3 linked regions of the Homo sapiens genome follow. The protein of the gene in region 2 interacts with the protein of the main gene of each other region in a pairwise test. Each region holds a gene or a part of one and is shown on either strand. Other genes may lie near its edges.

Evidence for each region.
Region 1: the proteins of RASSF2 (region 2) and S100Z interact in binary tests that used the Homo sapiens proteins (3 or more experiments, as listed by UniProt).
Region 3: the proteins of RASSF2 (region 2) and RASSF3 interact in a two-hybrid assay, tested with the Homo sapiens proteins (one study listed by IntAct).

What each region holds. Positions count from the first base shown.
Region 1 is NC_000005.10:76,914,987-76,924,240, reverse strand, and holds the end of S100Z (protein S100-Z), read right to left. Parts: intron 3,525-9,254; 3' UTR 2,591-3,524; downstream 1-2,590.
Region 2 is NC_000020.11:4,790,469-4,800,585, reverse strand, and holds part of RASSF2 (ras association domain-containing protein 2), read left to right. Parts: intron 1-2,500; coding exon 2,501-2,576; intron 2,577-4,619; coding exon 4,620-4,771; intron 4,772-7,958; coding exon 7,959-8,047; coding exon of another isoform or gene 8,048-8,053; intron 8,054-9,974; coding exon 9,975-10,117. UniProt on the Homo sapiens protein: Potential tumor suppressor. Acts as a KRAS-specific effector protein. May promote apoptosis and cell cycle arrest. Stabilizes STK3/MST2 by protecting it from proteasomal degradation.
Region 3 is NC_000012.12:64,604,226-64,615,182, reverse strand, and holds the start of RASSF3 (ras association domain-containing protein 3), read right to left. Parts: upstream 4,689-10,957; 5' UTR 4,551-4,688; coding exon 4,440-4,550; exon of another isoform or gene 4,337-4,439; coding exon of another isoform or gene 4,262-4,336; intron 1-4,261.

The sequences.
Region 1 (9,254 bases), on a different chromosome or scaffold from region 2:
AAATGTGGCAATTTATATAGTAAATGATTTTTAGGGGTAATGAATGGGCCCAATGTTCAGTTCATGGCTAGCAAATAATTCTCTTTGGGAATCAAACAGGACCAGAGAACAGTGTCTGGGCTCCAAGTGTGGTGTTTAATTATCATCTCTTCCTCTGAGATATGAGTTTTAATCTTTTCTGCTTAGCGATATTTTAGGGGAGAGGATCAAAGGCAATTGTGTTTCTCTTTGGTGGACCCAGTTTCTAGATAGATCAGGGATCTTCGGAGAACAGCCTCATCCTATGCTTTGGGAGACACAGAGAATTGGGGGGTGGGGAAGGAGGGCAGAGAGGCCTTGTGGCTGCTTCTCTAGTTCAGCATGTCAAAGTGCCATATTTTGGAGTGTCATTTCTTTGAGCCCCAACAAATCCAATTTTTAATTTGGTAATTATAGGGTAAGAGTTTCTGCATTTCCAACAAGCTTTCAGGTGCAGGCTATGCTAATGCTGCCGGTCCACAGACATTAATTAGCAAGTCTATAAAAACGGTTTGCCCATGATGGAGCTATGGTGGTGTTGTGGATTGGGCTGAATGAGGAAACCTCTCCCATCTCAAAGCAAAATCTGATTCTACACCCATGAGGGTGTAGTTGGAGGTGGAAGAGGAACCATCGTGGGTGGGAGGGTATCTTGCATTTGTCTTGGTATTGCCCTCCCACCCCTCTAGCCTGCCCTCCCCCATTGGGGTGGCATAGCACTGGGCCCACTATACTCTAAAAGTGGGCAACTAGGCATTAGATAGCTCCTAATGCAATACTGACTGCACAGCACCACCTGTGAAATACTCTTAACAGGAGTCCAACTTGACTCTAATCCAGGCTCTAGAGCTACCTTCACTGATGGAGATATAGGTGATAGAGGAAACAATTAAATAACATGGGAATAAATGGGCAAATCCAGAATATGAAGCTTTCCACAGGGCTACCTGGTTTCTACAACATAGGCATGGGGGGAAATTACAAAAGACTGCTGAGGATTGATATAGATTTAGGAGCCTTAAGAACCAAATGTAATCTGTGGGCCTTGTTTTGTTCCTGATTCAAACAAACCCAATGTAAAAAGAGATGTTTTGAGATAGTCATGGAAATTTCATTTTGAACTGCATATTAGATGATGTCACGGAATTATTAAATTATTAGGTGTGATATGGTATTGTGTTTTTTTAGAAGCCCATTTTTTTTTTTTTTACATAGGCATTGTAGGGGCAAAGGGAAAACTTCCCCTTTGTCTTCTGAAGGCTTGCTAAAACTCAGCTGACAAAAGGCAGATTATTGGGAAAAAAGGCATACAAATTTTATTAAGATGCATATATGTGCATGGGATTCATACAAAATGTGAATTCTAAGAGGGGCTAGATGGTTGCTTAAATACTCTCTTTGGCTAGGCATGGTGGCTCATGCCAGTAATCCCAGCACTTTGGGAGGCCGAGGCGGGCAGATCACGAGGTCAGGAGATCAAGACCATCCTGGCTGACACGGTGAAACCCCATCTCTACTAAAAATACAAAAAATTAGCCGGGCGTGGTAGCGGGTGCCTGTAGTCCCAGCTACTCGGGAGGCTGAGGCAGGAGAATGGCATGAACCCAGGAGGCGGAGCTTGCAGTCAGCCGATCGTGCCACTGCACTTCAGCTTGGGCAACGGAGCAAGACTCTATCTCAAAAACAAACAAACAAACAAACAACAACAAAAAAACTCTCTTTATGGGAAGAGATGTATGAACCTGGGAGGTGGGAGGGAGACATTATGGGAAGGTGATGGGCAGAACTGCACAGGAACAAAGGTCATCTTATTTTGCAGATTAAGTTTCCCAGGTAATCTCTTGAAGCTTCCTTCAGAAGAATAGAAGAAAAGTCTGTCTGGGCATGGTGATGACTTCCAACATCTTCTCTTCTCTGGTGAGTGATCTTTCCTGGTTATTTGCTGAGACCCCCTAGGGAGGGGATCCTAAGAAAAATTGCATTTCTTTTGGAAAAAAGCTTTCTTGGTTAGACAAGGAAATTCCAGAGAGAGTCTCTCCCTATGCTTGGGAGGGGGTGGAGACAAGACAAGGTTAGGGGAACCTTGATTCTGAGGCAGCTTCTAAGGCCTCTCAGCATGTCAAAGCACAGTCTTTGGGGTATCACTTTTGAGCCCTAACAGCATATCTGAACATGTAGGGATAAAATGAAATGGTACCTAGGATTTGCTTTCTTTTTTCTTTTTTTTTTTTTTTGAGACAGTCTCTCACTCTGTTGCCCAGGCTGGAGTGCGGTGGCATGATCTCAGCTCACTGCAACCTCTGCCTCCTGAGTTCAAACAATTCTCCCGCCTCAGCCTCCCAAGTAGCTGGGAATACAGGCGTGCACCGCCATGCCCAGCTAATTTTTTGTATTTTTAGTAGAGTTGGGGTTTCACCATGATGGCCAAGCTGGTTTCTAACTCCTGACCTCAAGTGATCCGCCCACCTCGACCTCCCAAAGTGCTAGGATTACAGGCGTTAGCCACTGCACCCGGCCTAGGATTCGCTTTCAAAGGAAAGAGATAGATGAAGCAAATATGACAGAAACTTGATAATTGTTGACTCTGGGTATTTATTGTAATCATTTCCTTTTAAAATCTTCAAGTAAAAGGACATCGTGGTTTTTGAATATCCAGTGTCATAATGCCATGTCTTACTTTTATTATCAGAAAATTATGAATACTTTTAAATAATCGTTAACTCTCACAAAGAAAGGAAGGAAAGAAGAATAGAAAATCGTGCCTAGTTCTATCTCTGTTACCTTCTGGGACTTTATTTCTTCATTTGTAAAATTAAGAGTCTGAATACCCATCCAAAGAGAAGGAACAAGAATTTTATTCAAGATTCAGATGTATTGACTTAAAAGCTCCCTTAGTATTATTAATAGAAAAATTAGAAATAATCTATATGCAATAGGGAATTGGAGTAAATATATTGTGATATATCAATGAAAATACTATTCAGACAAAAATAATAATACAGTTGTATATTTATTAAGCTGGAACTATATAGATAACAAAAGATATTTTTTGGTGTAATCTCATTTTTATGAACCATAGATATATAGATACATGGACCTAGGGAAAATTCGAATGAAGAAGTTAACAGTGATTATATCTGGGTAATGAGATTACATTTGATTATTTCCCCCTACAATAAACTTATATTACTTTTTTAATGAGAAATGGTAAAAGATTTTTCTTTTTTGTGGAAGTTGTGGATTTCAAGATAAAATCAGAGAATCTACTTCATACAGCTGTAGAGGCACATCACATTGGCTGAGGTTGCTGTAGACACTTCCTCACTGCTCCTTACCTAATTTATGAGCATGGGAAGGGCTCAAGCAGCTTTCTCCAAAGCCCCCAAGCCAAAGGCACTACTAAACACATTCAGTGCTATTCCAGGCAGACCCCGTCCTGAGAGCGATGATTTTCAAGGATGCTGCTTTCCACTTTATTTAGCCCTTGATTAGCATTCACGAACTTCCTGAAATCAAAGACCCACACAGTCACTTGAAATCCAGCCAATGGCTGTGTAGTATGTTTCCTGCTGATGATGGTAACATTTAAATTGGACACATTTACTATAAGTTTATCTACCACTCTGCTGTGACTATTTCTGCTCTGCATTGAGGAGAGTGAGGAGCGCTCCATTACAGTCAGATGTACAGCTTCTTGTGGAAGGTGGGCAGGCATGTTCTTTCTAAGTCAGGTAAATTCCGACGAAGCATTGTGTATACCATTATGCTATGCATGAAAGCCCAAGTGGGGAGAAGTCTTAGCAGTGGATTCAGCTAATGCCAATTGCAAGAAAATGTGCACTTCACAAAAAAGAGCCATAAATGGCCAGTAAACATATAAAAAAGTTACTCCAACACATTTCATGAATTTTAAATGGCAAATCACACCTGGTAAAGGACTTATCCAAAATATGCAAAGAACTTTTAAACTCAACAATAAGAAAACAAACCACCCAATTTAAAAAATGAAGGCTGAGCCGGGCGTGGTGGCTCATGCCTGTAATCCCAGCATTTTGGGAGGCCAAGGGAGCAGATAAACTGAGGTCAGGAGTTCGAGACCAGTCTGGCCAACATGGTGAAACCCCATCTCTACTAAAAATACAAAAATTAGCCAGGCATGGTGGTGGGCACCTGTAATCCCAGCTACTTGGGAAGCTGAGGCAGGGGGAACTGCTTGAACTCGGGAGGCGGAGGTTGCAGTGAGCCAAGATTGGACCACTGCACTCCAGCCTGGGCTACAGAGTGAGGCTCTGTCTCAAAAAAAAAAAAAAAAAAATGAAAGCTGGGCATGGTGGTTCACACCTGTAATCCCAGCACTGTGGGAAGCTGAGGCAGAAGGATCACTTGAGCCCAGGAGTTTAAGACCAGCCTGGGAAGGATGATGAGATCTCATCTCTACAAAAAAAGAATTTTAGCCAGTATGGTGGCATGCACTTGTAGTCCCAGCTACTCGGGAGGCTGAGGTGGGAGGATTGCTTGAACCCAGGAATTTGAGGCAGCAGTGAAATATGATCACTACCCTACAGCCTGGGTGACAAAATGAGACCTGCATCTCTTTAAAAAAAAAAAAAGGAAGAGAAAAAGAAAGAGAGGGAGAGAGAAAGAGAGAGAGAGAGAAAGGAAGGAAGGAAGGGAGGGAGGGAGGGAGGGAGGGAGGAAGGGAGAAGAAGAGAAGACCTGAACAGATACCTCACCAAAGAAGATACAAAGATGGCAAGTATATAAAAAGATCCTCCACAAAATATGTCATTAGGAAATTGCAAATTAAAACAATAGTGAGATACAGCTGCATACTTATTAGAATGGCCAAAATCCAAAACACTGATAACACCAAATGCTGCCATGGATGTGGAGCAACAGGGGCTCTCATTCATTGCTGGTGGCAATGCAAAATGGCACTGCCACTTTGGAAGACAATTTGGTGGTTTCTCACAAAACTGAACATGCTCTTACTATCCAATCCAGTAGTTGTGTCCCTTGATATTTACCTAAATGAGTTAAAAACTTATATCCACATAAAACCTGCACATGACTGTTTATAGCAACTTTATTCATAATTGGCAAACCTTGGAAGCAAGCAATATGTTCTTCAGTGGGTAATTAGATAAATGAACTGTGGAATATCCAGACAATGGAATATTCATCAGCTTTCAAAAAAATAAGCTATCAAGCCATGAAAAGCCACGAAGAAAACTTAAATGTGTATTAAGTGAGAGAAGGCAATCTGAAAAGGCTAGGTACCATATAACTCCAATTATATGACATTATGAAAAAGACAAAACAATGGAAAGAGTAAAGGGATTGGTGATTGCCAGGGACAAGTGGGAGGGAATGTTGAATAGATAGAGTACAGAGGATTTTTAGGGCAGTGAAGGTATTGTGTATCATACTGTAACAGTGGATACGTGTCACTATGCATTTGTCAAAACCCATAGAATGTACAACACTAAGAATGAAACCTAGTGTAAACTACAGACACTGGGTAATAATGATGTGTCAACGTAGGTTCTATTGTAACAAATATACCACTGTGGTGGGAGATGTTGATAATGGGGAAGTCGGTGCACATCTGGAGGCAGGTATAACATGGGAGCACTCTGTGTATCCACTAAACTTTACATGAACCTAAAACTACTCTAAAGTCTATTTTTTCAAAAGCAAATTAAAACCCTTATTCTACTGGGCACAGTAGCTCACTCCTGTAATCCCAGCACTTTGGGAGGCCAAGACGGGAGGACTGCTTGAGCTCAGGAGTTTGAGACCAGCATGAACAACATGGCAAAACCCTGTCTCTACAAATAATGCAAATGTTAGCCAGGCATAGTGGCACGCACCTGTAGTCTCAGCTACTCAGAAGGCTGAGGTGGGAGGATCACTTGAGCCCGGGAGGCAGAAGTTGCAGCGAGCTGAGATTGTACCACTGCACTCAAGCCTGGGTGACAGAGCCAGATTCTGTCTCAAAAACAAAGTAAAAACCCTATTCTAACGACAAAAAATAAAGTTGGATAATATCTAATGTTAGTAAATGTGTGGAAAAACAACACGTGCATAGAGGTATGGAGGTACAAATTGGTATAAGGTTTTTAGATAGAAAATTGACGTTATCAATCAAAATTTTAAATACGTATACCTTTGACCACAAGTCCAATTGTAGGAATTAACCTACAGATAGATACCCTAAAGACTACACAGATATATATTTAAAGATTGTCATTGTAGAACTATTTGTAAGAGCAAAAAGCAAGAAACCAACTAGACGTCCACCTACAGGAAACTGGCACTTTGACATAAAAATATTGGGCATTGAGGTTCAATACCAATTTTGACCTTGGTATTCAATTTCTGATTTTTTTTTTTTTTTTTGAGACAGTCTTGCTCGGTCACCCAGGCTGGAGTACAGTGGTGTTATCTCGGTTTACTGCAACCTCCACTTTCTGGGTTCAAGTGATTCTTGTGCCTCAGCCTCCCTTGTAGCTGGGATTACAGGCATGTGCCACTACATCCAGCTAATTTTTGTGTTTTCAATAGAGATGGGGTTTCGCCATGTTGGCCAGGCTGGTCTCGAACCCCTGGCCTCAAGTGATCCAACCACTTCCCAAAAGTGCTGGGATTAGAGGTGTGAACCACTGTGCCAGGCCAATTTCTGATTTTTGACCCAAGCTTTCCCTCTGGAAAACCATATAGCTGAATGGCTACTTCAGTCTCTTTTCTGACATTCTTAAACTTGTGTGTGATCATGAAACTGTGTAAGTACCACCTCACACCTAGGCAGCCTAGCAATGTCAGTAATACCAACAAGGCCTGTCATTCAGAATTATTGTGACTATCTATGAATAGTATATGGAAGCATGCTACAAAAAAGTCAAACTGGAAATCTCACATTTTATGTTTTGAAGCTCTATTAAATGATTGAAATATGTATGTTAATACATAATTATAAACTTATTTTGAAACAATTATAGATTCACATGTAGTTATGAGAAATACAGACTTGAGACCTTCCTTTTTTCTTCTTTTCATACAACTTTTTGAAATATCCTTTTTTTTTTTTTTTTTTTTTGAGACAGTCTCACTCTGTCACCTAGGCTGGAGGGCAGTGGTGCAATCTCAGCTCACTGCAACCTCCGCCTCCTGGGTTCAAGCCATTCTCCTGCCTCAGCCTCCCAAGTAGCTGGGACTGCAGTCACCTGCCACCATATCCAGCTCCTTTTTGTATTTTTAGTAGAGATGGGGTTTAACTATGTTGGCCAGGCTGGTCTCGAACTCCTAACCTCACATGATCCACCTGCCTTGGCCTCACAAAGTATTGGGATTAAAGATGTGAGCCACTGCTCCCAGCCTTGAAATATCCTCTTTTCTAATGCAGGGATTTCATGCTATAACTTTGCCTCTCAAGACTTCTTTAGCAGTATCTTACAAATTTTGATATATCGTCTTTACATTTTTATTTAGTTGAATGTGTTTTTAATTTTCCTTAAGACCCTCTTTTTGACCCAAGTATTATTTACAAGTGTGTTTAGTTTGCAAGTGTTTAAAAATTTTCATGTTATCTTTCTGTTATTGGTTTCTAGTTTGTTTCCACTGTAGTCAGAAAACACACTCTTAGGATTTCAATGGGTATTAATTTTTCAAGGTTTTTTTTTTTTTTTTTGGCCTAGGACATGGTCTGTCTTGGTATATGTACTGTGGGCACATGAAAATAATGTGTGGCCTGTTGTTGAGTGTTTCACAAAAGTCAGTTCAATCCTGTTAATTGATGGTCATGTTATTTCTTCTATGTCCTTGCTGATTTTCTGTCTAGCTTTTCTATCAATTGTTGAGAGAAGGATGTTGCAGTCTTCAATTGTAATTGTGGATTTGTCTGTTTCTCTTTTCAATACTATCAGTTTTTGCTTTACATATTTTGTAGTTCTGTTATTTGGTACATATATAATTAGGATTGCTATGCCTTTGTGGTAGATTTATACTTTTATTATTAGTAATGTACTTCACCATCTCTGGTAATTTTTTTTTTTTTTTTTTTGAGATGGAGTCTCACTCTGTCTCCCAGGCTGGAGTGCAGTGGCACAATCTCGGCTCACTGCAACCTCCACCTCCTGGGTTCAAGCGATTCTCCTGCCTCAGCCTCCCAGGTAGCTGGGATTACAAGTGTGTACCTCCACGCCCAGCTAATTTTTGTATTTTTAGTAGAGACGAGGTTTCACCATGTTGGCCTGACTGGTCTTGATCCTAACCTCATGATCTGCCTGCCTTGGCCTCCGAAAGTGCTAGGGTTAGGTAATTTTGTTTGCTCTGAAGTCCACTTATCTAATGTTAACATAACATTTTAAATTAATGCTTGTGTAATTTTTTGTCCTTTTACTTTCAACATACGTTATTGTATTTGATGTGAGTTTCTTGTAGAGAACATATAATTAGGGCATGTTTTTAATCCATTATGCTAGTTACTGTATTTTAATTTTTATAGTTAAACCATTTACATTTAATGTAACTATTGATATGTTTGGGCTTAAGCCTACCACTTTATCTTTTTTATTTATTTATTTATTTTTATTTTTTATTTATTTATTTTCTTTGAGACGGAGTCTCGCTCTGTTGCCCAGGCTGGAGTGCAGTGGTGTGATCTCGGCTCATTGCAAGCTCCACCTCCCGGGTTCACGCCATTCTCCTGCCTTAGCCTCCGGAGTAGCCAGGACTACAGACGCTCACCCCCATGCCTGGCTAATTTTTTTTGTATTTTTTTTAGTGGAGAGGGGGTTTCACCATGTTGGCCAGGATGGTCTTGATCTCCTGACCTGGTGGTCTGCCCGCCTCGGCCTCCCAAAGTGCTGGGATTACAGGTGTGAGCCATCACGCCCAGCATTTTTTTTTTTTTTTTTGAGATGGAGTCTCACTCTGTCACCCAGGCTGGAGTACAGTGGCACAATCTCAGCTCACTGCAAGCTCCGCCTCCCAGGTTTACGCATTCTCCTGCCTCAGCCTCCCGAGTAGCTGGGACTACAGGTGACTGCCACCATGCTCGGCTAATGTTTTTGTATTTTCAGTAGAGACGGGGTTTCACTGTGTTAGCCAGGATGGTCTTGATCTCCTAACCTCGTGATCCACCTGCCTCGACCTCCCAAAGTGCTGGGATTGCAGGCGTGAGCCACCGTGCCCGGCCTTATGTGTCCGGAATTGATTCCTTCCAGTGGATTCTT
Region 2 (10,117 bases):
GGTGGGGCCTCTGGGATGTGATTAGATCTAAGTACCCTTATAAAAGGCCAAGGGAGATTGTTTTTCCTCCGCGGTGTGAGGACGCAGTGAGAAGGCACTGTCTGTGAGGATAGGGCTGTCACCAGACACTGACTCTACCCTGACGTTGGACTTCCTGGCCACCAGAGCTGTGAGAAATGAATTTCTGTTCTTTAGAAGCCACCCAGTCTATGGTCCGGCAGCCAGAATGGACTCAGACACTGCTCCCCGTCCTGTCCGTTGTGTTCCCAGGGAGTCCTGGCTGGAGTAGTGTGTCCCTCGGCTGCTCTGGGTCTGGCTAATGCCCTCTGAATAGAAGGGGACAATTTAATTGCTTTCTGTGCACTAAAGTCTCTTGAGCTCAGGCTTTTTGCTAATGTGACTGGGCTTGAGCCAAAATAGACCCTTGAATTGGAAGTTCCAGCATAAGATTTCTCTATCTCTTTTTTTTTTTTTTAGAAGGACTCTCCCTCTGTCACCTAGGCTGGAGTGCAGTGGCGTGATCTCAGTTCATGGCAACCTCTGCCTCCTGGGTTCAAGTGATTCTCCTGCCTCAACCTCCCAGGTAGCTGGGATTACAGGCATGCGCCACCACACCCAGCTAATTTTTTAATTTTTAGTAGAGGTGGGCTTTCACCATGTTGGTCGGGCTGGTCTTGAACACCTGACCTCAGGTGATCCACCCGCCTTGGCCTCCCAAAGTGCTGGGATTACAGGCGTGAGCCACCACACCCAGCTGGGATTTCTCTATCTTAACGAAATATTTAATTTATCTGGGACTAAATTGTTGGAAGTCCTTAGGCACACTTGACACATGTTTTGTGACATCTGACCATTCTTATCTCTTTGTGGACAGATTTCCCCAGGGACTTCTACCAACCAATGATTTTCTCTCCCGGTTTCAGATCTGTGTGTTCAAAAGTACCAAACGGCCTTTTGTCTTAGGTGATTTCGAATCACATTTTCCACAAATTTATTTCAGCTTGCATAGAATCATGCTGCTTTATCTAGGTTTAACTTGTCAGGATTTTCTTGGCATTTCCAGTGGGTCTTGACTCCTGGCGTGGTCCAAAATCTCTCCACTGAATGGCTGGGTTCAGAGAGGCTGAACTCTGCCACCTCTTACTTGAGACTAGACAAAAGCGCACAGTGGCCCCCTCCACCTCTCGCCCCTCTCATCCCACCTGGAGTGCAAAACATGCACTTTCAGATGAAACTTGACTTGTGCATTCTCAGGGTTGATGAGGGATTTCCCTGATCACAAAGGGGGTGAAATCTCCTCTCTGGCCACGTGCAGTAGAGCTGTACTCCCAGTGCAGCCACTTGGAAAACTTGGTGGCTAAGGAGGTCCAGTGCTGGGCTTCAGAGGGGGAGTTTCTAAGGGTTTTTATTTTTTAATTTTTAGAACTGAAAAAGTATTGCCAGGGCCCAGAAGCCACCTCATGCCCACTTCTTGTCACTACTCCCCAAGGTGAACCACTATCCTGAATTCTAACACTCCATTTTGAACTTTCTGTCAATGGAATATGATCTGTGCTTTTTTGTGAAAGAAGCTAGACACAAGAAAAGCACATATCCTATAATTCCCATGAGTCACACACATGCGTGTAGTTGTGTAGTTCATTCACATTCTCTTCGCTGATAATTTTCCGTTGTGTGGCTATTGCTTCCTTTATGCACCCATTCTGATGCTGATGGGAGTTTGCAAGTTTTTTTTTTTTTGTTTGTTTGTTTGTTTTTTTGAGATGGAGTCTCAGTCTTTTGCCCAGGCTGGAGTGCAGTGGCGCGATCTCAGCTCACTGCAACCTCTGCCTCTGAGGTTTGGGTGATTCTCCTGCCTCAGCCTCCTGAGTAGCTGGGAATACAGGTGTGCACCACCACGCCTGGCTAATTTTTTGTATTTTTGTTAGAGATGGGGTTTCACCATGTTGGCCAGGCTGGTCTCAAACTCCTGACCTTAAGTGATCCGCTGGTCTTGGCCTCCCAAAGTACTGGGATTACAGGCATGAGCCACTGCGCGCAGCCAGCTTCTGAGTCTTGTGAAGGCCTATCATTATTGTCCTTTCCTCACTCACAGCGTGCTTGAGGGAGAAAAGGCCACAGCCATGCAGGAGAATCGCTGTGTGTGGGCTCTGAAGTGCTCGCCTCAGTGAATCCATGGCTTATTAACACCTGCTCATTCAGCTTGAGTTTGGGAGTATTGTCGGTAGACGAGGCCTGCCTTGGTGTCCTGGAGTTGCTCCTTACTTTAAGCATTGTTCTGGGGTGGTGCTCACTCTTGACTTTGATCCTGGGGGAAGATGGTTATGGGGTGGTGGTGGCAGAACTCTGTGTGCATGTGCATGTGTGTGTATGTACATGTGGACAGTTACCCAAAGTGGGGTGACTGAAGGCCAGGTGAGAGGTGAGAGAAAGAGGGAACAACTGCATTATAAGTGGCTTCAGCTGATAATGTTATATCTCTTCTATTTTTCCCCCTAAGAAATGAACTTCTCTTGCATCTGAAGACCTACAACTTGTACTATGAAGGCCAGAATTTACAGCTCCGGCACCGGGAGGTAAGGAGTCCCCAGGGACGGCCCTGATTGGCTAGTCCAGGGCTTGTCACCATGTGTCCTGGGTCTGAAGGTCCCTGAGGTCCCAAGAGAACCCTGCCTCTCCTGCTTCTTATTTAGGTTGCTAGTGAGAGTCCTTGGGGTTCTTTGGAAGAAGACTCCAGGCCCAGTTTTGTTCCAAAAAGGATGAATGTTTCAGAGATGTGTTCCAGAGACATTCCTGTAGAAATGTGGCAGGGCTAGCCCAGTCTCATGGGGGAGATTCTCCAGAGGGAGCTTTCATGAAATGACCTTTCCAGGTGGCTCCCAAGCAGACGTTCTCTCGTTGGGCAATTCGGGAACCCCACCCAGTCCTCTGTGTTTAAACATTTGGGCCCAAGTCCTATCACTGCAGTGACCTGGGCAAAGCACATAAGCTCTGGATGTTAGCAGAGTCCCCACTGATAGTGGGCCCGTCCCCACACTTGGTCATCCTAGGTTGCTTTTGTTACTCATCTGATTCCCATCCTGAAACTGAGCTTACTCATCCTGTATCCATTTCTCTAAAGCCTGTTATCAGATAGATGATGAGTTATAAAGGAGTCTGGTAGGGTACTTTATACTCAAGCGCCTGTGACTGATAAAAAGGTCCCTATGTGTAATGCCCTTTGAAACACATTTTCAGGTTATCAAGCTGTGGCGATTTAACCATAGAAACAGATAACAGATGGTGGAATTTCAGCTGCTAGGGCAGGTTGCTTGGGGACAGTATGTGGGATGTAGTGGCCTATTCTGTGTCCCTCAAACCACTCCACTTAGACAAAATCCTGTTTTGGGTTAAATTTTGACCTACAATTGTGTAAAGGAATGATGCCCACCTTGACCAGGGGAAGGCCATGTAAATTGCCTATGTTTACATAAAGCCTTCCTCCCTGAGACGCCTAAGCACCGTAAAATTGTTTCATTTCTCTCCTTCCCTCTTTTATTCCTTCCTCCCTCTTTGAGGATGATTTTGGGGCCCAAGTTAGTTAGTTGCTCAATGGGCTGATGTTATTTTCACCTATGGGGCTTGTCCTGAAGATGTGTTCCATGACCCAGATCTAACACTTGAATAGCCCATAAAACATGGCTCCAAAAAGGTTTTTCTGAGACTAGAGGGAGGAGAACCGATTCTTTTAGGAACTGCCCTTCAAGCTTTTACTAATCAGCAGCTGGGCCATGCAAGATTTTAGTTCTTAAATAGCTTTCCTGGGTTATGTCCTATAGAATAAATGATTAAAAGTGCTTCATGATTAAAGGATTTCATAGTCATAAGCGAGTCCCAATTCTTCGGGATAGAACATATAAATGCCTCTAGAATGGTTTTACATTTAATGTCTAATTAGTCAGCAACCTTTGAGTATAAATTGGGGACTCCTGCAAGATTTATTCACCTGTTGGAGAGTTGTCATTTAGCCCGTTAGTTTATTACAGAACCTGGGACATTCTGCTGTTTGGAAATCTGATTAGCACAGCCTCTCCCAGCTCATGATCACTTGACACCCTTTTAAAGACAGCAGTTCATCTGCTAGAGGAGCTAGTGTTCTGTAGAATAAACTTCGGCAAATGTTGCTTTAAATTTCCTTCAACCACCAGGTTGGATTGCTAAACAGATGTTGTAGCTAAAGAGACATCATTTTCCGTAGTAGGGGATGGGACGTAGCTAACTCCAGTTCTTGCTTCTGTTAACAAGGCTAATCTCACTTATTTTAAGAAATGTATTCCGCTTTCTTTAAAAGTCATTAGGATAAAAAGAAAAACAATGCTTTTTATAATTTATACCTATGTATTTGAATTTCACAGCAACTTTTGTGCTGACCTGTGAGGTCAGCTTCAGGATCTGGAGTAGTTGACGTCAGAAAGTATCTCAGAGCTGCGGTGTGAACTGGGCAGCTGCCCCTATCCTGTGAATACAGTCTGGGGGCCCCCAGCCAGGACATGTGAAGAATGTGTCATTTGTCCCTCAGCATGGTCTTGGCTTCTGTGGGGGCTTTTCTAGGCTCACTACTCTGATTGCTTTGTGGGCAGGAAGAAGACGAGTTCATTGTGGAGGGGCTCCTGAACATCTCCTGGGGCCTGCGCCGGCCCATTCGCCTGCAGATGCAGGATGACAACGAACGCATTCGACCCCCTCCATCCTCCTCCTCCTGGCACTCTGGCTGTAACCTGGGGGCTCAGGGGTGAGTGAGGAGAGACGGGGCAGGGAGATGACTGGGATGCTTGGGTGTTCTATGTGTTCTCAAGCAGATAAATGCTGCCTTCTTCCAGCCAGCCCTGACCCTGGCTCCTCCTCCTACTACCTCTACTGCCCACCTGCCTTAGCCTTGGAATGAGGAACAAGCAGCAGATGTGGTTGTGATTGAGCCCCCTTCCTGTCACTGCAATCACTGATGAGGTCACAGGAGGGGAGCTGCTGAGTCATACGAGGGGAGCTGCTGAGTCAGAGTCCTCCCTTAGGGAGAACTCAGGAGTCTCTGAGTGGAGCTGCTAGTGGCTAGTGAGGCCCAGCCTGTATATTTCTAACAGGGCGCCCCATGCCCCAGCACCCTCCCCACTGGGACCACTCCTCATAGAATAGCCCCACTCCAAAGCATTTATGACTTGAACCTTCTGACCAAAGCTCTCTGAATCTTGGGGGAACCTAGAAGAGGAAAAGGAATGTCAGGCTCTGTCAGAGTCAGCCAAGCGAGATCAGCCAGGGGTCTGCTCCCTGCAGACCATACGGGGAGCCAGGGTTTGGTGAGATGGTGGTAGTCTAAGTTCCCACCAGAAGGGCTGGGAAGACCTAGTCCATCCCTCCTTATCCTCCATGGCTGAATAAGCCGCCAAATGCGCCGCCAAATGCCTCTAGCAAGGCATGCCCTCTTTATTGTCTTTCTGGGACTTGAGTTTTAGGATCAAGTGACTAGCCTGTCTCCATCCTGAAACCTGCTGATGCTGACTGCCTTCGGCCCCAGCCTGGGTGGAGTGTGCTCGCCTCTCAGCCAAAACCACAGTGACCTTTTTTTCTGGTTTAAATGAAAACCAAGCCCTCTCTGTTGGCCACATTGAACATTTTGCTAAACTCCACAGCCAAATCTATGTTTCTCTACAATTGAGAGAAACCTACTATGTGGCCAGCCCTGGGGCTGGTCTGGTTTCTTTCCAAGGGGATTTAAGGAGGAAAATTGTTGCCCACCCCATAGGTGCTAGGATGTCTGGTTAAGGTTCTTTGGTTTCATCTAACTTTGCAGGTTTCATGCTCTGCTTTTCAGCACTATCACCATATTTTTGTTTTGTTTTGTTTGAGACAAGGTCTCACTCTGTTTCCCAGGCTGGAGTGCGGTGGCTTAATCACAGCTTACTGCAGCCTCAACCTCCTAGGCTCAAGTGATCCTCCCAACTCAGACTCCCCAGCAGCTGGGACTATAGGTGCACACCGCCCCACCCCGACCTTTTTTTTTTCTGTTGCCCAGGCTGGAGTGCAGTGATGCGATCTCGGCTCACTGCAACCTCTGCCTCTCGGGTTCAAGCGATTCGTGCCTCAGCCTCCTGAGTAGCTGGGATTACAGGTGCCCACCACCAAACCCAGCCATTTTTGTATTTTTTGGTAGAGAGGGGGTTTCATCATGTTGGCCAGGCTGGTCTTGAACTCATGACCTCAAGATATCCACCTTCCTTGACCTCCCAAAGTTCCGGGACCACAGGGGTGAGCCACCATACTGGCCCTACCTGGATAATTTTCATGTTTTTTGTAGAAATGGGGTCTCACTATGTTGCACAGGTTGGTCTCAAACTCCTGGCCTCAGGCAATCCTCCCACCTTGACTTCCCAACGTGCTGGGATTACAGGTGTGAGCCACCATGCCCAGCTGTACTTGTTACACTGTACTGTATTTGTTATACTATACTGTATTTGTTATACTATACTGTATTATTGCTGTATTTGACTGCCAATGGCCAAGCCCATTTCACAGCCTGACCCTGACCCCCAGACTATTCTATTCCCTAAGTGAGATGATTTTTAAGATTTCGTTTGAGCCTGTGGCCTTTGGTTTGGGCTGCTAAAGGGTCCTTCGGTCCGCCTGCTTCTTCTCCCTTCTCTGCGGCATCAAGCTGGTCCTGGCTGACTCTGCAAAATACTTTGGTAGAATTTTCAGGAATGGTAAATGGTGTCATTTAGATGTCAGCTATAATACAGTGAATGCCTAGACTGCTGTCTTAAGAAGGATCCTGAGGCTGTGCGTGGTGGATCGTGCCTATAATCCCAGCACTTCGGGAGGCTGAGGCGGGTGATCACTTGAGCTCAGGAATTCAAGACCAGCCTGGGCAACATGGTGAAACCCTGTCTCTACAAAAAAATAAAATAAAAAAAAAAAATAAGGATGCTGAGACCGGTTCCTGCTTCAGCAAGAATGAAGGCTTTAAATCAGGGAGTGGGAGTCGCTGCTCTGGGTGCCAAGTGTTCACCATTCCCCAGAAGCTCTGACCAGGTCCATTCTGTGGTTCAGAAGTATATGAGTTAAATTACAATAGGAAGTTCTTTCAGATTTTCCATTTTAATTGTCCTTCCTTAAAACGATCCTCCCCAGAACATGAGGTTTATCTCTACTGGGTCCCAGGGAGCCCATGCTCTTCTCACCATGGGTTGTTCCTAATTGGTCAAATATGATTCTCCTTTCTAGCCAAATCCTCTGTTGATTTTGGATGTTTTTCTGAGCTGCTCCCTTTGTCCTTTTTGGCTTTGAGAAGTTATTTGCCAGTTATGATGGCAAACCAGGGTCTCAGCTTGGACTGCCTGCTTGTAACCCTTTCTTCAGCTTGGATGAGGACTCCATCCTTGCAACGCTGAGAACACTGTCAGTGTCCCTTCCAAAGCTGCCCCTGCCCTTGTTGTGGCCAACTTATTACTTTCCATTCCTTTTGAATGCCAGAAGCAATTATGAGTTATTTCTTCAACAGCAATGAGTCTAAACTGGAATCTTACCCTGCAAAACGAATGGCCACTATTAGAGTTTTCCAAGTAAGCCATAGAATCCATACATGCTTAGAAGCAGTGCAGGCAACACGTGGGTTTTGTTCCTTGGTATTATCCATCCTGGGCTTGATGAATTGGTTGGGTGTGTTACTGCAGTTGCTGCAAAAGAACATCTTCTCCCTCCGGAACTCCCCCTGCCCCACCCACTGCTTGACCTGGGAGCTGGGCCAGCCTTTCACGGGATGCTCCGCGCAGCCCATCTGCACCCTTCATCACCTGATGTGTGCCAGTACCCAGCCTGGCACTAGCAAAGTGCTCCCCTTTCAGGAGTGGGGTCCAGCGGGTGCGGGGGCGTCTCTCCACAGGGCTTAAACTAGTCTCCCCCCTCCCCTTTGTCTTCTCCACTCCCAGAACCACTCTGAAGCCCCTGACTGTGCCCAAAGTTCAGATCTCAGAGGTGGATGCCCCGCCGGAGGGTGACCAGATGCCAAGCTCCACAGGTACATGTGAGTGGAAGGTACTTCCAGCTAGGGACCAACTGTGTGAAGACCGCTGTGATAGATGTTGTAAACTGTTATTTATTTTTGAGAATATAAAATGTATATGGTTCAAGATACAAAGGGAGAGAATTAAGTCACCCACCTCATCCACCCACCTAGAAGCATCCCGAGAACATCCTTCGTGGGATAGTCCATGCAAATATAAGCAAAACACACTGACATGTCTTTATGGGTGGATGTAGTTTCTTTCCCCCTCCCCTCCCCTCCCCTCCCCTCCCCTCCTCTCCCCTTCCCTTCCCTTCCCATCTCCCTCTGTCACTCAGGAGGATGCAGTGCAGTAGTGCAATCTTGGCTCTGCTTCCTGGGTTCAAGTGATCCTCCCACCTCTGCCTCCTGAGTAGCTGGGATTAAAGGCATGGGCCACCATGCCCAGCTAATTTTTGTATTTCTAGTGCTGATGGGTTTTTGCCATGTTGGCCAGGCTGGTCTTGAACTCCTGGCTTCAAGTGATCTGCCCGCCTCAGCCTCCCAAAATGCTGGGATTATAGGCATGAGCCACCGCGCCTGGTTGGATGTAGTTTCTTTTCTTCCCCTAGTTATACAAGTGGTAGCATTGTGCAGATCCCAGTTTTTATTTATCAGTTTATCTGGGGGAATGTTTCCATATACATTTGTAAAGAACTTCCTTATTCTTTACAGCTCTGCATTCTTTCACTGTATGGAAAAAGGATAATTTATGTAATCACTCCCTACTGGTAGACATTTAAGTCATTTTCAGCCTCTGCTATGACAAACGAGTTTGCAGTCGGCGGCCTTATACATGTGTCACGTCACACATTTGTCAGCGTGTAGGATTCTTTCAAGTGGACTTTCTGGGTTTAAGGCCATATGCATTTTTAATTTTCATAGATATTGTCAGTTTGCAAAATCTTTTTTATATTACGTGGATTAAATATATTTTAATAAGAGCAGATTAACCTACTTGTGATTAATGTCAGTATTGTATATTTATACACATACAAGGATAGACATATGCCATGGGAACCCCACATATTTTTAGATACATGTTCTGTTAAACATTATTTTTTCTAATTTTTTATTGTGGTAAGATATACATAACATAACGTTTACCATCTTAACCATGTTAAGTGGTACAGTTCAGTGGTATTAAAAGCACTCATAATGTTGCGCAACCATCACCACCATCCATCTCCAGAACTCTTTCCATCTTGTGAAACTGAAACTCTGTACCCATTAAACTCCCAATAGCTCCCCACATCCTTCTCTCTTTAGCTCCTGGCAACCACCATTCTACTCTCTGTCTCTGTAATTTTGTATGTACCTAGAATGTACTTACAGTGTACCTCAATTATATGTGGTACACTTATATGAGGTACACTCTAAGTATCTCATATAAGTGGAATCATTCAGTATTTGCTGTTTTGTAATTGGCTTGTTGCACTTAGCATAATGTCATCAAGGTTCATCCGTGGGTAGCATGTGTCAGAGTTTGTTTGCAGTATCTTGTTAGCTCTTATATCATGCTTATCCTGTGCCAGGCACTATTCTAAGTGCTTTATGTATACTAACTCATTTAAACCCTCAGCAACCCTCTGAGGTGGGTGTTATTATTATCCCTATTTTATATATAAAAGCACCGAGGCACAGAGAGGTTAGTGATATATGGCAATCATGGAGCAGGGATTTGAACCCAGGGAGTCCGGCTCTGAAGTCTGTTCTCTGAACTTTTCCTTGTATAGGTTCTCTGTAAATTCTGCATTATGTTTTTCCCCCAGCAGAAAATATTATTTGTATAAAATATATATTTGTGGAGACAGTGGGTGCTGTCGCACTGGCCACAAATTGGGGACCATGTGCCATGTCCCAGGTCCAGACAGACAGAGTTCATTTCCCTCTCCTCTCTCAGACTCCAGGGGCCTGAAGCCCCTGCAGGAGGACACCCCACAGCTGATGCGCACACGCAGTGATGTTGGGGTGCGTCGCCGTGGCAATGTGAGGACGCCTAGTGACCAGCGGCGAATCAGACGCCACCGCTTCTCCATCAACGGC
Region 3 (10,957 bases), on a different chromosome or scaffold from region 2:
TGGTGGGAAATCAAGAAGGCAAATAATAAATTACACAACTGTCCACATTTTTGGTTTTGCTGAAAACAATGATTAGGTGGATCCTTTGAAACACAGCGAATCCACAAATACGTGAATCCACAAATACAAATTATAAACACTGTCATGACTATATGCAGGTCAGGGAGTTGAAATTTTAAGAAACAGCCAGGCGCGGTGGCTCATGCCTATAATCCCAGCACTTTGGGAGGCCAAGGAGGGCAGATCACTTAAGGTCAGAAGTTCAAGACCAGCCTGGCCAACATGGCAAAACCCCATCTAGACTAAAATACAAAAAAAAAAGCCAGGCCTGGCAGCGGGTGCCTGTAATCCCAACTACTCAGGAGGCTGAGGTATGAGAATCAATTGATCCTGGGAGATGGAGGTTGCAGTGAGCCAAGATCCTGCCACTGCACTCCAGTCTGGGTGACACAGTAAGAATCTATCTCAAAAAAAAAAAAAAAAGAAAAGAAAAGAAATTTTAAGAAACTCTTAAATTTTAGGTGTCCTTATTTGCAAAGGGAATATGGAGCCATAAAATTATTTTTATAGCTAAAAAGTAACAAAATAGAGAGTGTAATTTGAGTCTGAAAACCTGAGTTCCAGCCTTCTTGCTATCTAGGTGTGGGCCTTATACAATCACTAAATAATACCTCCCCCTTTCATTAAGTTAATGTTTCATACAGTTTTTGGGAGCACCATAAGATACAGTACATTTGAAAATGGTAAAGATCAGGGGCCAGGTGCGGTGGCTCACGCCTGTAATCCCAGCACTTTGGGAGGCCGAGGCGGGCAGATCACCTGAGGTCAGGAATTCAAGACCAGCCTGGCCAACATGGTGAGACCCCGTCTCTACTACAAAATTTAGCTGGATATGGTGGCAGGTGCCTGTGATCCCAGCTACTCGGGAGGCTGAGGCAGGAGAATCGTTTGCACGCGGGAGACGGAGGTTGCAGTGAGCCGAGATCACGCCATTGCACTCCAGCCTGGGCAACAAGAGTGAAACTCCATCTCAAAAAAAAAAAAAAAAAGAAATGGTAAAGACCCAGTTACTATCAAATCAGGAAAACATTCATTCATTCAGCTTGCATTCACTGAGCAACTACTGTATATCAGGTACTGATCGAGACCCTGCGGATACAATAAACATGACATTCAAACTGCCACAAAACGTCATATGTTCGTTCCCTTTATATCTTTTAGACAGTTTTGTTTTTGAGACAGGGTCTCGCTCTGTTGCCCAGGCTGGAGTGCAGTGGTGCGATCACAGCTCACTGCAACCTCTGCCTCCCGGCCTTAAGCAATGCTCCCACCTCAGTCTCCCGAGTAGCTGGGACTACAGGCGAGCACCACCATGCCTGACTAATTTTTGCATTTTTTTTGTAGAGACAGGGTTTCACCATGTTGTCCAGGCTGGTCTCAAACTCCTGGGCTCAAGCAATCCTCCCATCTCAGCCTCCCAAAGTGCTGGAATTACAGGCATGAGCTACCACACGTGGCCTAGACAGGTTTTTTAACCCTTTTCCATTTTTGTTGTTGTTCTTGTTGTTAAGAATGGGGTTTAAAGTAAGAAAAAAAATGAAAACATTTTCTTTATAAGGTTTTTGTTACTGTTGGGGATAGAAAGAAGTTGCACTATGTTCCCTTGCCTGGCAAGAGAAGAAAGAAATTTCCAGTCCACCCGCTCCCTCACCCCTTTCTCCCCATTCTGCATTTACCACAAACATCTTGTTTTCTCCGGATATTTTCAAGAAATCTAGAAACCTCATTTTTCTCACTTTTCCACCAGGTGGTACAGCATCCAAAAAAAAAAAAAATCACTGTATCTCTAATAGATCCTTCTAGCAATACCTCTCTTTCCATCTCTCTAGAGAAAGGATAAATTTCACTACTATGATGTATGTCAGAAGTGCTTATCTTATTCTTATAATCATCAGCATGAAAATGAAGAAAAAGGCTTATCTAACGTTAGATAAAAGGAACATTCTACATTAAGAGTGTTTTGCTTTATATTTATGATGTTTTACTTCCCTAATTCACCAATCTTACCAGGAATTTAAAACATTCATATCACTTCTTTAAATAAACCACAATGCTCACTAAAATTCGTAGTTTAGAACACTTTCTCTGCCTGGCAAATAACTTCTACAACTCAGCACCTTACATGTGTTATGTTAGAAGGGAAAAATATGCAGGCAATAAAGCTTCAAATACACATATGAAGCTCTTCAACCACGAACTATGTCTTCCTGTCCTGATTTCCAACACGATATTTCAAAATACATATTAATGTTAGACTAATTCTAAATGCTAAATAATACTACCCTGAGTATAATATATATGCTAGATGATACATAAATGATTGCATACAACATAGAAACAATAAATGTGCCGGGGGCGGTGGCTCACATCTGTAATCCCTGCACTTTGGGAGGCCAAGGCGGGCAGATTACCTGAGGCCAGGAGTTCGAGACCAGCCTGGCCAACATGGTTAAATCCCATCTCTACTAAAAATACAAAAATGAGCCAGATGTGGTGGTGCATGCCTGTAATCTCAGCTACTCGGGAAGCTGAGGCAAGGGAATCGCTTGAACCAGGGAAGCTGAGGTTGCAGTGAGATCACACGACTGCACTCCAGCCTGGGTAACACAGTGAGACTCCATCTCAAAAAAAAAAAAAAAAAAAGAAACGCTAAATGCATATAAACCTAGAAAAAAACTGATGTCTTTACTCTTTAAAGCACTAAAGGATTCTCATACAATTCAAACCTGAATAGTTTGGCCCTTGTGGCATCTCACCCCTGGAGAATCCAAGAACCAGCCAGTTTTCAGGAGATTAGCAGACACCTCTGGAATAAACTTCAAACTACCATGAGTTCCTTTTCATGTCAAGTGGTGAAAGCAACATAAATGAAAGGAGAAAATGCAAAACGGAGAAGGGGAAGAGAGAGGCCAAGAAAGAGAAAGCAAAAATGGAAAAAGCATAAGCAAATGCAATTTTTCTACAACCCAGGGAGGGTGGGCATGGGGGAGGAGAGGGCGTTTCCAACTTCCAAACTTCACAGCAATCTCATGCTCTCAGAACACACTCTGCTGAAAGTAAGAGATCCCACTCAAAGTGACTCGTAAATAGTGGGGCCTTAAGCCTTAGAAACAATACAAGACGGACAACTATGGCACCGGGACTTGAGATTAACTGCGGTTACTGAATAAGGGCACTTGACTTCAGCTTACCCTTCACCGTCTCCTCTCCTCCTCCTGGTTTGGGACTTAAGAGCCTGAAAAGACTAGAACTTCCGAATTTTAGAAAGAATTTTACTTCAGAAAGTGGCTAAACTTAAGAGGTCTGGCAAGACCACCCTGACAGATTGCACCCTCCCACATCCACCAAAAGAAGTTATCATCCGGCCCCTGAACGATTCTTCTTGCTTCTAGTCTCTAGGTCTCAGTCCGGTATTAATAGAAATGTTTGGCGAACGCCTGTTTTCTAAAAGCAACAAATTTGTGCCATTACAATCTTCTGTAATCTGATGTGAGCGTGGCCGGGTTGGCCCGGCTCCCCTGGTGCGGCTCCTAGTGCCAGGAGGCCGCGGGCTCTAGCACCGGGCTCCTCAGTCCAGCCGACGTGCCCCGTTTCGGGAAGGCCTCCCAAAAAACACGGCTACAGCTGGCGAAACTGGCACAAGTTCCCTTCCCATCTTTTCCCAACTCGTGCTTCCCACGGCATGCTGCCTCCAAAAAAGGAAGAAACCGGCGAAAAGGTTAGCTGTCGCTGGCTAGTATTTAGCATAGGAGCTTGTTTGCAAAACATCTGGGCACCAAAAAACCTAGCTTTACAGAAAACGCACAACCCTGAGTCCCGCAACGGAGATTTAGTGAGAGCCTATGGTGGCGAGGCCCACGGTGCCCTTGGACCCCCACTCCACCAGGTCGCCCGGGCCAGGAAGAGGGGAGGTCAGGTCACCCGGCCACCCCTAGCTATTACACGTTGACCCAAGCCACTCTGGGGGCCACAGATGAGTAAGCTGACTAACAGGAAGGACAGGCGCGCGAACCCGACCGTCGACCCAGCGGGGACGCGAAGGGGAAACCTGGGGGAGTGGCCCGGGGACGCCTGCTGGCTCCGGGGCTGCTCCCCGCAGGCGGCAGCCCGAGGCGGAGCTGCAGAGGCCATCTGGCGCGGAAGGCAGAAGCCGGCCCTCAGCCTCCCCGCCCTTCCTCCGCCTTCCCTCGCCTACACGCACAAGCTCCAGGCACGTTCCCGGGACCCGAAAAGGCAGAAGCCACTTCTCGGCCCGCTCCTCCTTCCCGGCGAGCATCCCCCGAGCGCCCCGCAGAGACACGTGGAGGCAGGGGGCGCGGGCTGGCGGGTTCCCCGGAACTCTGGGGCGCGGGCTGCAGCGCCCGCCGCGCGCCACTCACTTGTTGGCCGGAGCGGGGCTTGCCCTGGGGCGCTCTCCTGAAGAAGGAGGTCCTGGCGGTGAAGAAGAAGTCCTCGGCGTCCTCCTCCAGGCTGCTGTAGCCGCTGCTCATGCTGCCGGTCCCGTCGCGCGCGGGCGGCCTCCCCGGGGCGCAGGCGGCCAGGGAGGGGGTGCGGCGCCCGCCAGCCCCGCGAGGTTCCCGGCGCGCAGCCCCGGGCAGTCCTTATGCAGCTGCGGCCGCCGCTCAATCAGGCTCTCCCGGCCCCTCCTGCCGCCTCCCCGCCAGGCTCCAGGCGCGGCTCGGCCCCGGTGCGCCCGCGACCCCGCCTCCCTGGGCCCCGCCCCGGACGGGCGACCGGCCGAGCCCCACCCCGCGCGGCCGCGACCCTCCCCGCCCGCCCGCAGGTGGGGGGAGCCCGGCCCGCCCCTTCCAGGCGCGCGGGTTTCTCCCGACAGCGTCGCGGAACCCGGAAAGCCGGGCGCTAGGGCTGCGTCTGCTGGGGCTGTGCTCGGGTCGCTTCCTCAACCTCCCGGAAACTGCAAATTCCTCTGCGAGCCGTCCGCCCGCCCCCAGCCTCGCTGGCTCGAGTTTCGGAGAGGGCGGGAGCAGAGCGGGGAACTTTCTCTGCGTCCACTCCCTGCTCGCCCCCGCACCAGGGTCCTGTAGGGGTGGGTGGGGGTTGCCCGGCCGAGGGACCCCCCAGGTCCCACGGCTTCCTGCAGCCGCAACGCCCAGTCCTGAACCCCAGCAGCTCGCCCCTCCAGGAGGATTTCAAGTTGGCAGAGATGGGTGGGGAGGTCAAAAACTGGGTTGAGTTTATTCGAATGAAAACATCCTTTCTGGTCATTCATTTGAGCTTCGGTCTTACCCTTTTCCCCTTCTTTCTAGCGAGGGCTCACTTCCAAATAAGATCGTTATCTTAGGCGCACTCAGTGCAACTGAAAGGTGAACTAGTTCTATAGTTACAGAACAATCGAGTGCTTATCAATTAAATGTGCTTTGTAAATGTCCCCGCCACAATCAGCCTTCCACGGTCACCCACAAGGCATGGTTTAAGTGGTGGGGATAAGGAGATCAGGGAATTCCATCCATCCACGTACAAAAAAAGTTTCCATGTTTTCTAAAACTCTTCAGTCAGCTAATCCTCTTAAAGCCACCAGTGGGTAACAGTCTTTTACACCTTGGTGTTACTGCACTGATTTAAATAATACTAATTTCAAGATCTTGACTGAAAGGTTTTTTTGAAGCTGCAAGCCCTGCTATAGTTAGCGAGCTTCAGAAGAGGTTTCATTAGGAGGGGAAGAGAGACGTTAGAAAAGAGAAAATGTCCATCCATCATAGCCAAACTAGCCAAACTCTCTTACATTATCTCCTTCAATCCTCCGAGCAACTCTGCAAGGTACGTAGTGCTATTTTATGCCGGTTTTACACCTAGAGCAGCAGCTGAGGCTTAAAGAAAGGAAAGTGGCTGTAGGAGGCAGTACTCGGACCGTTCTGCTTTGCGTTCTGTTGATCTGAACGTGGTCACATACCCTACTGGGTTCTCTGCTTGGTATCGGTCAGCCGTGCTCTTTTGTGGACTACAGGAGGAAGAGTTGGACCCGAAATGACGGGAAGGAGAGAAGAATTGACTCATGAGTCATCCTACTGTCCCTAGGCTGAAAGAAGGCTTGCAAACCTGCTCCACCTTCGGGCTTACACATCCATCTTGTAAACTAGTATATATTACCCCACGTGATTCACAACAACTCCAGAAGGAGGGCCTTTGAGTTACAGCCCATTTTAAAGGTCCTACAACATTAAAGTCTTCTTCTCGGCCACACAGCTACTGAATGATAGGAAGCCAGGAATTCTAACTCCATATAGTTTCACCCAGCTTAAGCTGATCCGTGTGTGTGCCATGCACATAATCTAATGTAGGAGAATAGGGCTTTATGACAAATTTTTCTTATTTGGTTTCTCTTATTTCATTATTCAGATATAATATTAGCGCAGCTCTTATTAAATATTCCAAGGTAAGAATAATGTGTAGGTTAAGGGCTTAAATTACTCATTTTATTGTGGGTAGAAAGGGGAAAATAATTTTACCTAGAACAAGTTGAAGTTTATGAATACTTTGAGGAAAAATGCATTAAAATGCTTTATTGGCCGGGCGCGATGGCTCACGCCTGAGGAGGCAGAGGCGGGTGGATCACTTGAGGTCAGGAGTTGGAAACCAGCCTGGCCAACGTGGTGAAACCCCGCCTCTACTAAAACTACAAAAATTAGTTGGGCGTGGTAGCGTGCGCCAGCTACTCGGGAGGCTGAGGCAGGAGAATCGCTTGAACCCGGAGTGGCCTAGGTTGCAGTGACCCGAGGTGGCGCCATTGCACTCCAGTCTGGGCGACAAGAGCAAAACTTCGTCTCAATAAATAAATAAATAAACTTTATGATGCACCACACCATAAAAATGATTTTTTTCATTGTATTATTTTTAAGCTCCAAAGGACTGGATTAATTTGTATATCTGTCAGCATACCATCAGAATCAGTTATAATAAAAAGGCATGATTGAGTGGGGCACAGGGGGAAGCTGAGGTGGAGGATCACTTGAACTCAGGAGTTCCTATCCAGCCTGACCAACATAGTGAGACCTTTTCTCTAAAAAAAAATGATTTTTTTATAAAGGCATGATTAGGCCAGGCATGGTGGTTTACGCCTGTAATCCCAGCACTTTGGAAGGCCGAGGTGGGAGGATTGCTTGAAGCCAGGAGTTCAAGACCAGCCTGGGCAACAAAATGAGACCCTGTCTCTACAAAAACAAAAACAAAAAACAAAAAAAAATTAGCCAATGTGGTGTCACATGCTAGTGGTCCCAGCTACTCAGGAGGCTAGGTGGAAGGATCACTTGAGCCCAGAAGTTTGAGGCTGTAATGAACTATGATCTTACCACTGCACTCTAGCCTGGGTAACAGAGTAAGAGTCTGTCTCTTAAAAAAATAAATAAATAAAATAATTTTAAAAGCCATGATCAAATAATGAAATGGAAGCACTGCTTTTAAGCAACAAAAAAAACATAAATAAAGGAAAGGGCCGAGTGAGGTGGCTCACGCCTGTAATGCCAGCATTTTGGGAGGCTGAGGCCGGCAGATCACTTGAGGTCAGGAGTTCAAGACCAGCCTGACCAACATGGTGAAACCCCCATCTCTACTGAAAATATATAAAAAAATTAGCTGGGCATGATGGCACATGCCTGTTGTCCCAGCTATTCGGGAGGCTGAGGCAGGAGAGTCACCTGAGCCCTGGAGGCAGAGGTTGCAGTGAGCCAAGATCACGCCACTGCACTCTATCCTGGGCGACACAGGGAGACTCTGCCTCAGAAAATAAATAAATAAATAAATAAATAAAGGAAGGAAGAATTGTGATTTTGTTTCCTAAAAGCAGCATAATGATATTTGCATATTTTTCTGGTAGCTTTTTTTTTTTTTGAGACAGGGCCTCACTTTGTTGCTGGAGTGCAGTGGTGCCATGTTGGCTCACTGCAGCCTCGACTTCCCAAGCTCAAGCAATCCTCCCACCTCAGCCTCCCGAGTAGCTGGGACTACAGGCATATGCCACCAGGCCTGGCTAATTTTTATATTTTTTTTGTAGAGACAAGATCTCACTATGTTGCCCAGGCTGGTCTTGATGAACTCTTAGGCTCAAGTGATCCTCCCACCTCGGCCTCCAAAAAGGCTGGGATTACAGGTGTGAGCCACCATGCCTAGCCTGGTAGCATTTTTAATTAAAATATTGTGAATTTAAAATTTAGCTCATGAAAATTGTATCTGTAAAAATTCAAAATGTCATGTTAAGCAACTAGACACTTTTAACATTTCAAATTCAGGGAAGGGGGTGGAATAAATAAAATTAAATGTATGCAACCAAGTTCAAGTTTTGTTTTGTTTTTTTGAGACGCAGTCTCACTCTGTCACCCAGGCTGGAGTGCAGTGCTATGATCTCAGCTCACTGCAACCTCTGCCTCCCGGGTTCAAGCGATCCTCCCGCCTCAGCCTCCCGAGTAGCTAGGATTACAGGCACGCACCGCCTCACCCGGCCAATTTTTGTATTTTTAGTAGAGACAGGGTTTCACCATGTTGGCCAGGCTGGTCTCAAACTCCTGACCTCAGGTGATCTGCCTGCCTTGGCTATCACTGACTCTTATGTGACCTTTAACAATTTAATTAACTTCTCTATGCCTCAGGTTCATCAGCAGCAAAATGGGGATGACAATGTCTTCATTTTATTTTCTTTGGTTTACTGTAAGGATTAAGTGAAAGAATCCAGGCAAAGTCCTTGGCATAGAATAGGATCAAGCAAATATTCATCTTTCTTGCCCCAAATATTAGACCTTATTGCATACTTAACATTCATCACTCACTTCTTTCTTGTTAACTAAACAAGGACTTTAATTCAAGAATCCCCTCGGGAAAAGAAGTCCAATCTCAGCTCACAGGGGTAAGGCCTGACGTGCAGAGTCAGTCGTAGTGGTCCCATTCCCCTTGCCAGGGATTGCTTTAGGCATGGACAGGTCTCACAGACCTGACCACTGAGACCAGAAGGAAACCTGGCTTGGTGCCTTTTAGGAAGATGTTCCTCACTTTTAAAAGAAACCTACAAAAAAAGACTATGTCTTCTTCCTCTGGATCTTGCATGCTTGCATATGGTACCTAGGAATTCTGTAGCCATATTGTGGACAAAATAGACACCATGGCAAAGCAGAACAATACAAAGACTTCATAGCTCTTTGATTAACCAGGTTTGACACCACCCTAATTAGGACTTCTTGTTATGTGACATAAGATATTATCTCGCTGCTTTTTTTTTTTTTTTTTTTTTGAGACGGAGTTTCGCTCTTTTTACCAGGCTGGAGTGCAATGGTGCAATCTCGGCTCACCGCAACCTCCACCTCCCGGGTTCAAGCGATTCTCCTGCCTCAGCCTCCCGAGTAGCTAGGATTACAGGCATGCGCCACTACCCTGGCTAATTTTGTATTTTTAGTAGAGATGGGGTTTCTCCATCTTGGTCAGGCTGGTCTTGAACTCCCAACCTCAGTTGATCCACCTGCCTCAGCCTCCCAAAGTGCTGGAATTACAGGCGTGAGCCACCACGCCCGGCCTAGATACTGCCTTGTTTAAGCCAGTTGAGTTGACCTGTTATCATCCTATATTCCCATCATTTTGTTCCTGCTGGAATAGTCATATCTCTCATAATATTTCTGCCACGTTCTGTTCTCCTCCATTGACATTGGTAGAATCAGTAGAGACAGATAGAAAAAGAAGTAAGAGTTTTTAAATGATTGCTAAGTTGTTCCCCTGAAGATAATTTAGAAAGTTCATTTTCTTACCTTAAAAAAAAAAGCAACCCATAGCAGAGGTATTTAAATTGGCTTTAAAAAGGAAAAAAAATATGTTCTAAAATTTCTCTCAAAAATTCTGACAGGCTGGGTGTGGTGGCTCACACCTGTAATCCCAGCACTTTGGGAGGCTGAGGCAGGCAGATCACCTGAGGTCAGGAGTTCAAGACCAGCCCGGCCAACATGGTGATACCCCATCTCTACTAAAAAAAATACAAAAATTAGCTGAATGTGGTGGGTGCCTGCAATCCCAGCTACTCAGGAGGCTGAGGCAGAAGAATCACTTGAACCAGGGAGGTGGAGGTTGCAGTGAGCCGAGATGGCACCACTGTACTACAGCCTGGGCAACAGAGCAAGGCTCTGCCTAAAAAAAAAATAAAAATAAAATAAAATAAATTAAAAAAAAAATATATGACAAACTCAAAGATGATAGGAGTTGGTTACATGGCCGGGCACGGTGGCTCACGCCTGTAATCCCGGCACTTTGGGAGGCCGAGGCGGGCGGATCACAAGGTCAGGAGATCGAGACCACGGTGAAACCCCGTCTGTACTAAAAATACAAAAAATTAGCTGGGCACGGTGGCGGGCGCCTGTAGTCCCAGCTACTCGGGAGGCTGAGGCAGGAGAATGACGTGAACCCGGGAGGCGGAGCTTGCAGTGAGCCGAGATCGCGCCACTGCACTCCAGCCTGGGCGACACAGCAAGACTCCATCTCAAAAGAAAAAAAAAAAAAGAGTTGGTTACATCAGCCTGGTAGCTGGAGGACAGGCTCTTAATAGTTGAACCGATACAATCAGCGGCTGTTCTCTTTGGTCAGTGCCTATTGGCTGCAACTATCACCCTGGTTGCTTCCATTTTGTTCATGGCAATGACAGGAATAAATGGTATAATAACTGAAAGGCAATGTGTTTGGTTGTTAAGTATGTGGGGTGAGAAATCAGCCTGGGCTGGGCACAGTGGCTCACACCTGTAATCCTACCATTTGGAGAGGCTGAGGCAGGCAGATAGCTTGAACGCAGGAGTTGGAGACCAGCCTGGACAACATCACGAAACCCTGTCTCTACAAAAGATACAAAAATTAGCCGGGCATGGTGGTGTATGCCTGTAGTCCCAGCTACTCAAGAGGCTGAGGTGGGAGGATTGCT